Linked DNA regions of Homo sapiens: region 2 is linked to region 1. The links come from fine-mapping of genetic effects on plasma protein levels. A gene starts in region 1. The other region holds a variant in brackets. All regions are shown on one strand. Distances are from middle to middle.

Evidence for each region. PIP is the chance, under the fine-mapping model, that this variant and not a neighbour inherited with it causes the effect. The UK Biobank Pharma Proteomics Project read protein levels with antibody pairs (Olink). The fine-mapping took linkage between variants from a reference panel, not from the people measured, so its PIPs are less certain.
Region 2: its variant is fine-mapped to the plasma level of the VWF protein (UK Biobank, PIP above 0.99).

What each region holds. Positions count from the first base shown.
Region 1 is chr12:6,123,337-6,125,702 of GRCh38, reverse strand. VWF (von Willebrand factor) reads left to right here and starts at 1,033. Exons shown (of 52, transcript NM_000552.5): 1 at 1,033-1,282.
Region 2 is chr12:6,028,113-6,036,112 of GRCh38, reverse strand. It overlaps VWF (von Willebrand factor), which reads left to right. Exons shown (of 52, transcript NM_000552.5): 20 at 1,287-1,425; 21 at 4,535-4,669; 22 at 6,625-6,771. Among named protein-coding and RNA genes, the nearest start is that of SNORA120, 8.1 kb to the left of the region's middle. The variant C/T (reference allele first, on the strand shown) is at 3,830.

The DNA of each region.
Region 1 (2,366 bases):
TTTTCTACTGTCTCATGCTGATTCTGCCTCTGGTGCCATTTTTCTTCCTTGGGAGTGTGCATCTTCCTCTCCTGGGGCGGTAAAGGGAGTAGCAGAGTGCGAGGTATGTGGGAAGGGAGGAGGTTGGAACCTAGTGGTTTCTCAAAGTCTTAGGGCAGGAGGTATCATGGAGAAGCAGTGAGGAGGTCTTCCATACCCAGACATGCCTCAGGGTGCTTGTCTCAGTGCCTGGAATCCCAGCACGAGAGTCATCTTCCCCCCACCGCTGCCCATTGCATCAGTTACTTATTTTAGTAGGAATTAGTTTAGCAGATGGTGTTGAGAATTAGGCTTTTGGGAATGGGAGGCTGGGAAGAAGAATTGTGTGTGTGTGTGTGTGTGTGTGTGTGTGTGTGTGTGTGTAAGATCAGGGTACCAGAAGTGGGTGGAAATGTCCTTGAGAATTAGAATTATTAGAATGTAGCAACAGTAGAAGTATTAGACTCAAACCATCACTCCCCACCTTCACCATTTTACAAAGGCTTAGGCTTGTGGCCAAGACCTTCATCTTTAGCCGATCCATTCAACCCTGGCCAGGATCCAAATGGACTGTTTTTGTCAGGGCCAGGACCGGATCCTTCATACCTGGGGTGCATAGGAAGTGTTAGTACTCCCCTTCCTCCAAACACAGCAGCAAAATTGGCTCAGGTTGAGGTGTTTTTCTCAACTTCCCTGGAGTCCAGCCCTGGAAGCTGGATCAGGAAGCTGTGTTGTTCTACTGTGATTCCCCCTGGCCTGTATCAGCTTGCCCTGAAACAACCAGCATTCCTGGTTATCCCACACAGGTGGGGCACTCTAGGAAGACCAGGGATCAAGTGTGGGGGTGTAGGGATAGGGGGTGTTTGGGGAGGGCAAGGCAGTTAATTAAGGCAGCTGCCAGGAGGTCTCCCTCCAAACTCTACAAAGCTTTATCAGCTTGGAGGTACTTCTAATACCATTTCCTTTCATTGTTTCCTTTTGGTAATTAAAAGGAGGCCAATCCCCTGTTGTGGCAGCTCACAGCTATTGTGGTGGGAAAGGGAGGGTGGTTGGTGGATGTCACAGCTTGGGCTTTATCTCCCCCAGCAGTGGGGACTCCACAGCCCCTGGGCTACATAACAGCAAGACAGTCCGGAGCTGTAGCAGACCTGATTGAGCCTTTGCAGCAGCTGAGAGCATGGCCTAGGGTGGGCGGCACCATTGTCCAGCAGCTGAGTTTCCCAGGGACCTTGGAGATAGCCGCAGCCCTCATTTGCAGGGGAAGGTATGGCCTTTGGAAGGAGAGCTGGCTCAGTTGTGGGAGGAAGATGCAGGACTGACTGATCCCTGCTCCTGGGGAGCTGGAGTTCTCTGTCGCTGGACTAGAAGGGCTTTGTTTGGAGGGGCAATTCAATTCAGCCAGGGATGATCCTAATACTCCCTCCTCCACTTGCCTCTGAGGGTCCTGGGGCTGCTTTTCTTCATGCAGTGGGTTTTACTGTTTGATAGTACTTCACTCAAATGAGTTGGAATGAAGTTTGCCCTCACCTCTGAGAACCTGGGAGCAGCTGAATGTACCTGCGTGTTAGGACTGGGAGGGGACACCTGCTTGGAGACCGAGACCTGGCAGTATCTGACATCTCAGTGTTCCTTCCACAGATGTATCACAGATTGGCTTGATTTCACCTTTGGCTGGATGGGACCTTAGGTAGGAAGGGAGTCACCCCCAGTGAATCTCAGGCAGCAGATTCTGCACTTCATTTAACAACTTTTCCCGAGGAGAGGGGCTACAGCAGGGGCTCTAAGTGACTTGGGGTACGCTCTGCCAGCCAGGATGAATTGTCCCTCTCTTGGGGGTCACACAGTGGGGAAGTCTGCCTGCATCCAGGGCCGCTGGACTCCTGTCCATTTTTTCAGATGAACTCAGCAAACATTTGCTGGGCATCTCCTGGGTGCTAAGCATCTTGCCAGGTGCTGGGGTTGGAGGCAAGGGAGACAGCCTTTGCTCTTGTGAAGGCACTTGTGGTACAGAGTCAGGGGCCAACAAGCAAACCGTCAAGTTGGTGGTTCCTGAGCATTCTCTATGTCTGGGCTGCTGTGGTGGGCACACAAGTGTAAGACGGTTCCTACTCGCCAGTTTGGATGCAGAGGCAGGAAGGAATGAGGTGTGTGTTAGCTCCCAGCTGCTTCAGGAGGCAGGGATGTGAGGCCCAGCGGGCCTGGAGGGAAGGCAGCGTTTTCCTCCTGTCTTGGGCCTGGGACTGCTGTCTGTGGAAAGGTGCCCACAGGTCCCAGCTCACAGCGATTGTTACCCTTGGGCCTGGCACTGGCCAGGGGTTTTTTCGGGGGCCAGAAGTCCATGTTCAAAG
Region 2 (8,000 bases), 92 kb after region 1:
TTGGACTTTGAAATATTTGCATATACATAATGAGGTGTCTTAGGGATGGGACCTAAATCTAAACATGACATTTATTTATGGTTCATATATACCTTATACACGTTGCCTGAGGGTAAGTTTATACAACATTTTAAATATGTATTTAATGTGTATTTAGTATTTTTAATGTTTGTGCATGAAACAAAGTTTTGTGTACATTGAACCATCAGAAAGTAAAGGTGTCACCCTCTCAGCCACCCATGTGGTGTCATGTTGGTGCTCAAAGTTTTGGGTTTCAGAACATTTTGGACTTCAGAGTTTTGGATTAGGAATGCTCAGCTTGTATTTCTGTTCAGGGAGATGGGCCCCAGGGAAGACAGGGACCTCGCCCCACCAGTCATTGCATTTGGGCCAAGCTGCCAGTGGGCACGGGGTCTGGAGGGTCCTTTCGTTGCAGGCCTTACACTGCCCATGAGCACTTCGTGAGTGTGCTTGCAGTGGCGTGGTTTGAGGTGAGGGTGGCTGGTTGCCTTCTCCCTTTTCCTTGGCCATCCTGCACGTAACCCCTCACCCTGCTCATTCACCCTGCCTTTGACTTGGTGGCTGTGCACAGCCTTGGAAAGAGGCCTACTGGACAGAGGTAGAGAGGGCTGTCTCTTGGGCTTGAGGTCTGAGCTTACCACCTCTGACGCACAAGTGGGCTTCTTGATGTCAGCTCTGGTTACGGGTGGTGGCAGGGAGGGACACGTGGCAGTGGGCAGATCACTATAGATTTTAACATGTAGCTACATACATCTTAACGTGTAGCTATGCACACAGGACTGCTCCTGGCAGAAGTGCGTACTTCATCACTCTTTTCTATACTCTGGGCTTTCCCACTGTTCTGTCTTGTTTTTCCCATTAGCCTCAGGCTTTCAACATCAGTGTGTCTGTTTTACAGACACCCTGTGGCCAATCTCAGGTAGATGTGGCTTTCAGGGTGAGGCTGAGCGAATTCATAACAGGAGGCCTAAAGAGCATCCGGGCCTCCTCCCTGGCTGCCTGGCTCACTTTGGACAACCCCTTCCCTTCTTTGCCTCAGTTTCCCCCTTTTAGGGACAGCCACTAGGCTTCCCTGTCTCCTGCTGGGCACCATACTGGGCCTATGAAGTCCACACTCCACGCTACAGGTCCTCAACTTCCTTGGGCTTCCTGGAGGGTTGGGAGGCACCCAGAGTATTCTGTGTTCCTTCATTGCCTCCATGGCCCAGATGGGCCCCTCAAACCCAAGGTGCCCAACTTGTCATCTCTGCCATGACTGCTCCTAGTGTCTGTCAGGACCGGAAGTGGAACTGCACAGACCATGTGTGTGATGCCACGTGCTCCACGATCGGCATGGCCCACTACCTCACCTTCGACGGGCTCAAATACCTGTTCCCCGGGGAGTGCCAGTACGTTCTGGTGCAGGTGAGAGGTGGGGAGATGGGGAGAGGGTGCTGTTTCTTTCTAGGAGGGGTGGGAGGTGTGGCCTCAGGTTGGGTTCTGTGGATCTGTCTGCAGAAACAACTCTGGGGTCTGGTTTCTACTGGAGTACTTCCCAGTCCTTCACAGAAGTGCCTGAAGCGGTAGGGGATTTGAAGCTCAAAGTGGTTGTCCATTTTCCCTCTGCTCACCTGGGGACTTATAAAACGAGACAGAAGCTTGTTTGTTGTTGAGGATTGGTGTGGGAGAAAGGCTACTGCTAGTCCACATTAGCACAGATGTGGAATTAGAAAAAGTCATCTGTTCCTTCTGGTAGACACAGCCTCAGTCAGGGTGCATAGCTTAGGGAGTGGGTTGGGCTGGGAAGTCAGTCCCGCTCAGCCTCCCTTCCAGCACCCTGGGCAGTGCACAGTCTGCAGGTGTTGTGCAGTGGCCCTGGACAGGGGGATGGTTGAAATGACCCCTGGAGTTTGCTTCCCACGATATGGCTTTGTGGAATTCTCCGCCATTTTAATGTCTAACTTGGTACAATTCAGAATGGGAGGAGTGGGAGGATGGGACACAGGAAAGTCATCCTGCCCAGCAGATGAGAGCGATCCAGGAATCCTCACGGTGAGTGTGGGCAGCAGCCCCTCTGCCTCCCACTCCCCACTGCGTGGATTCTTGTAAGTTTCTCTTTCTGGTTGACATCAACTGTGTAAGCAAGGAAGTATGAGTGCTTTTCTCACCAGAGCTGAGGCACTGTACTCTGTGAAGCTTTGAACAAATATGGTCCCTCTGTCTCCATTCCCAGGAGGAGGAGGGGCGGGAGCTTGGTGTGGTCTGAATGGAAGACCACAAACCCATAGGAGCCCCAGCCCCAGAGGCTGAGTTGCAGGAGCTGGTGAGTCAGGCAGCGTGGGTGACTGTGGACCGACCACTCGTGTAGAGCATGCTGGGCATGGGGCGGAGCCAACAGCAGCCTCCTCAGTCCCCACCTCACACCCGGGCTGGCCCAGAGAGGCAGGCAGTGTGCTGGGGACACAGGGCATGCAGACCAGGCAGGGAACCTATGATCCGGGGGGATATGCGCCCCTTTAGAGCTTTCCCAGAGATTCTATATGGAAGTTTCCCAGCCTCAGCAGCAAAAGAGAGGGCGACACCAGCTTTGCAGAACAACTGCCCAGCCCATTTCAAATCTGAACATCCAGGAAAAAATTAATTCAGTGCAGCAAGGACCAGACAGCTGGTCAGCATCTGCTGCTCCCAGCCCTTCCCTGCCCAGGCCAGCTTTCCCAAGTGGACCAGTTTTAAAGACTCCCCCTCCAAACGGTGCCCCTTGTGTGTGGCTTGTTTTCCTTTCCTACAGCTGGTTCTGTTGTCTTCTGATGCATTGTCCTGGGGCCCCTCCCCTTTCTGCCATCCTCCTTTGGGGAGTATCATCAAGACCTAACTCCCTCTTTCAGAAATCTCAGCTGAAGATAAGGACAAATAAAACACCTACACCCTTGTTTCCTCTTTTAACCTTCGCCATGCATCGACCTAACACAAAGCCATTTAACCTGACAATTCCATTAAGTTGAATGGAATCTTAGAGGTCAGATTGTGTGTGTTGTATGGACATATGTATGCATGTATGTGTGCATGTGTGTATGCATGAGCATGTCTGTGTGGGTGTATGCATGTGCGTGTGTGTGGGTGTATGCATGTGCGTGTGTGTGACTGTGTATGAGTACATGGGTGTATGTGTGTGTATGCGTGAGCGCGTGTGTGTGTATGGCTACGTGTGTGTATGTATGTGTATGCGTGTGTGTGTGTATGAGTACATGGGTGTATGTGTGTGCATCTGTGTATGTGTGAGCACGTGTGTGAGTGTGTGTATGAGTACATAGATGTATGTATATGTGTGTTTGAGTGTATGCATGTGCCTGTGTGTATTTGGGTGTATGTGTGTGTGTGGGTGTGTGTGTCAGAAAGGTAAGTGGTTTGCTCAGTGTTACCAATAAGTGGCAGAATCAAGATTCACACCTTGTTTTTATTTTTTCTTTTTTTTTTTGAGACAGAGTCTCGCTCTGTCACCCAGGCTGGAGTGCAGTGGTGCGATCTCGGCTCACTGCAAGCTCCGCCTCCTCGATTCATGCCATTCTCCTGCCTCGGCCTCCCTAGTAGCTGGGACTACAGGCGCCCGCCACCACGCCCGGCTAATTTTTTGTATTTTAGTAGAGACGGGGTTTCACCGTGTTAACCAGGCTGGTCTCGATCTCCTGACCTCGTGATCCGCCCGCCTCAGCCTCCCAAAGTGCTGGGATTACAGGCGTGGGCCACCATGCCCGGCCTCTTTTTTCTTTTCTTTTCTTTTTTTTTTTTGAGATGGAGTCTCGCTCTGTCACCAGGCTGGAGTGCAGTGGTG[C/T]GATCTCGGCTCACTGCAGCCTCCGCCTCCCGGGTTCAAGCGACACACTCTGTTTTTCTAAGTTGAACATTTTATCTTTCTTTTTCATCACATCACAATAATAGCCACCATGGGGGAGGCATTTGCCAGGAATGTGTCCCCTTTTGCTTAATTTTCTATGCAATTGACCAACAAGGACCAGAGCTCCTTATCCTCTCTACTCATCTCGACTTGGTAGCTCAGGACCCATGGAGCTGTGTCAAACCATCTTTGGTTCCATTTCTGGGCCAGCAGTGCAGAGGGATTCAACCAGAATTCAGAGCCACAAAGTGCCCTGTGGTCAAACTGTCCCAGTTACCTGGGTGGGACTCTAGGCAAGGCTCCAGTGGGACTCTAATGGGCTCTAGGCAAGGCCTTTGAGCCTGATGCATCCATCGAAGCAGGCCACATGTCACCTTCCTTCCCTCCCCCTCCTTCCCCACCCCCACCCCACTCACTGCAGGCACCTGGCTCATCTGTCGTGGGCGAGGTTGACACACCTGAGGGCATTCACCTGGGCATATCCCCCGTCCCCCAGACACACACAGAGGCACATATGCGCAGCCATGGACGTGGCAAGATCCTGTGACACGTACTCAAAGGCCTGTGATGAAGAGATGCCAATCTTCTGGTCTGGTGAGAGCCAGTGGGGATAATGGTCTTCTCCTGGCACTCCTCTTTCCCCAGGATTACTGCGGCAGTAACCCTGGGACCTTTCGGATCCTAGTGGGGAATAAGGGATGCAGCCACCCCTCAGTGAAATGCAAGAAACGGGTCACCATCCTGGTGGAGGGAGGAGAGATTGAGCTGTTTGACGGGGAGGTAAGTGCAGCCTCATCTCCACCCTCATGTCCCGCTTTGTGCTTCTGCCACTTAATAGGAACATTTTCCAAGCATTCATTTAGAGCTCGTGTGAATGGAATAACGCACAGCCATTAAAGAGGATGAGGCAGAGCTATTGCAACTGACCGTGACGTATTATTTTATGAGAAGAACAAGTGGCAGAACAATAGGGATGACACAATCCCATTTTAGCGACAGTGCAGAGTGTGTGTGAAGGATGTGCACATGTGTCTGCACAAACGTGGGAAGAACCAGTGCTCACCTCTAGAGTAGGGTGGGGACTGGAGGGTAGCCGGGTTTCTTTGTGTGTGTGTGTGTGTATGAAGTGATGATGTTATGGGATATGTTTCATATGTTTTTCTGTTCTTTTCAGATAAATACTTTATTTTTTTGAGATGGAGTCTCGCTCTTTTGCCTAGGCTGGAGTGTAGTGGTGTGATCTCTCTGCTCACTGCAACCTCCACCTCTAGGGTTCAAACGATTCTCCTGCATCAGCCTCCTTAGTAGCTGGGACTACAGGTGTACACCACCGTGCCCGGCTAATTTCTTGTATTTTTAGTAGAGATAGGATTTCGCCATGTTGGCCAGGCTGGTCTCGAACTCCAGACCCCAGGTGATCTACCTGCCTTGGCCTCCCAAAGTGCTGAGATTACAGGCATGAGCCACCATGCCTGGCCAGAAAGGAGCTCAAAAGAGGAGTAAACTAATTCAGTCCCCTGTGTACTAAGAACTTAAAAAGTAGTTCTCATAAGTGTACACAAGACTCCCTTAGGAGATCTTGTTTAAAATGTGGCTCCTAGAACTCCATGCTGAGATTCTGACTCAGTAGGTCTGGGTGGGGCCCAGGAACCTGTGTTTAAAGTTGCAGGTCATCCCCAGGCCACAGTTTTGGATCCGCTGCTTTGACTATGTGGAGTGCTGTGGAGACCCAGGCTCTGGGCACAAACTTGTCCTGGTATCTTCATTTTCTCCCATGGCCTCAGCCTGCAGCTCTGCCTTCTTCCAAATACCCACCATTGACAGCAGGGGATGGGAGGTGAATTCTTCACCATTATGGAAGAAAACTGCTTAGCAAGCATAACGTATTAACTGTGAGTCAGCAGTGTCAACTGCATTTCAAAGAACAGCTCTATTTAGGGCAGAGTGGCGGTGATGATGCTGAACAGGAGGTGTGCAGACATGTGAGGGATAGATTTGCACATGTGATTAGCTCTGCACTGCATGTGATATGTTACTAATGAGAGGACCTCTGCAAAGGGATGATGGCAGTTCTCAGCCTCAGCCTCAGTCTGATGAATTGGAGAGTCCGCCACACATGCTGAAATGGTCCTCCAGGGTACAGCACTGGCAGGGATTGGGCTAAGTCAGAGGCTCAGGTCAGAGCCCTTCTTGAACCTGCAGTGTGTGATTCCCAGCACTAGCACTGAGCACCTCAGTTTCCTTTTTCTTCAGCTCTGTCTCCTGATGACAGTGGCTCTGGGGAGGGGGAGGTGGTGGGATACAAGAAAGGTGAGAGTCTACTGCTTATTTTTATAGAGGAATAGATTTTTAAACAATCAACTAGAGATGCTTAAAATCATTGCCATGTTGAAAACCTATCTAGGAGACCACTATATTTAATGACTAATTGTCAATAAAATACCTGCTCATTGGTTTCATAGTACTTTAATTTCATAATCATGATTTTGCTGCTACCTCTGTTACCGTCTCTTGGTCATGGATGCCTGGAGAGTGGTGGTGGTGAGATGGTCACAGACATGTCCTGGCGTGGGGCTGGCCCTGCAGGGGTGCAGTGGCAGGTGGGGTCCTGGAGGGGTGGCAGTGCCTGCACTCGTGGGCACTGAAGACAGATGGGCAGGTGTAGAGTGGAGGGAGGATCTGGCTGTCGAGCCTGCCCTTCATCCTCCTGGATTTCTTGCTTTGTCTTCCTCCAGGTGAATGTGAAGAGGCCCATGAAGGATGAGACTCACTTTGAGGTGGTGGAGTCTGGCCGGTACATCATTCTGCTGCTGGGCAAAGCCCTCTCCGTGGTCTGGGACCGCCACCTGAGCATCTCCGTGGTCCTGAAGCAGACATACCAGGTCAGTGGCTTTCTTGCTTCATCTTGTTGGGGACTTGGCCTTTGGAGTGTTTTCTGCTCCCTGATCGTAGGTCTCTAAGGACTTGCTTTATGAATCCAGGTGCTCCTGTGTTGGGTGCATATATATTTAGGATAGTTAGCTCTTCTTGTTGAATTGATCCCTTTACCATTATGTAATGGCCTTCTTTTGATCTTTGTTGGTTCAAAGACTGTTTTATCAGATACTAGGATTGCAACCCCTGCTTTTTTTTTTTTGCCTTCCATTTGCTTGGTAGACCTTCCTCCCTCCCTTTATTTTGAGCCTATGTATGTCTCTGCACGTGAGATGGGTCTCCTGAATACAGCACACTGATGGGTCTTGACTCTTTATCCAATTGGCCAGTCTGTGCCTTTTAATTGGGGCATTTAGCCCATTTACATTTAAGGTTAATATTGTCATGTGTGAATTTGATCCTGTCATTATGATGTTCGCTGGTTATTTTGCCCATTAATTGATACCGTTTCTTCGTAGCATCGATGGTCTTTACAATTTGGCATGTTTTTGCAGTGGCTGGTACTGGTTGTTTCTTTCCATGTTTAGTGCTTCCTTCAGGAGCTCTTGTAAGGCAGGCCTGGTGGTGACAAAATCTCTCAGCATTTGCTTGTCTGTAAAGGATTTTATTTCTCTTTCACTTATGAAGCTTAGTTTGGGTGGATATGAAATTCTAAGTTGAAAATTCTTTTCTTTAAGAATGTTGAATATTGGTCCCCCCCTCTCTTCTGGCTTGTAGGGTTTCTGCCAAGAGATCTGCTATTAGTCTGATGGGCTTCCCTTTGTGAGTAACTCGACATTTCTCTCTGGCTGCCCTTAACACTTTTTCCTTCATTTCAACCTGGTAAATCTGACAATTATGTGTCTTGGGGTTGCTCTTCTTGAGGAGTATCTTTGTGGTGTTCTCTGTATTTCTTGAATCTGAATGACAATATCAACTTTTCTTTAGGTTTCTTAACCTACAGCAGCAAACCAATCATGCACAATATTAGTATAACACTGCAGACTATTCTAGGGTGTTTCCTTATCATTGAGTCATGGGCCAGCATGTTTTGAGAGCTATTTGTAAAATTGCTAATAACCAACTTTTGAGAACGGTTCCACTATTTAGGGTCCAACAGTTTGTTGGAACTTGCATGATTTCTTTAAGTGGCATGTATGTGACAAGTGGCTCTGGCTACTCTAGCCACTGGTTTAGT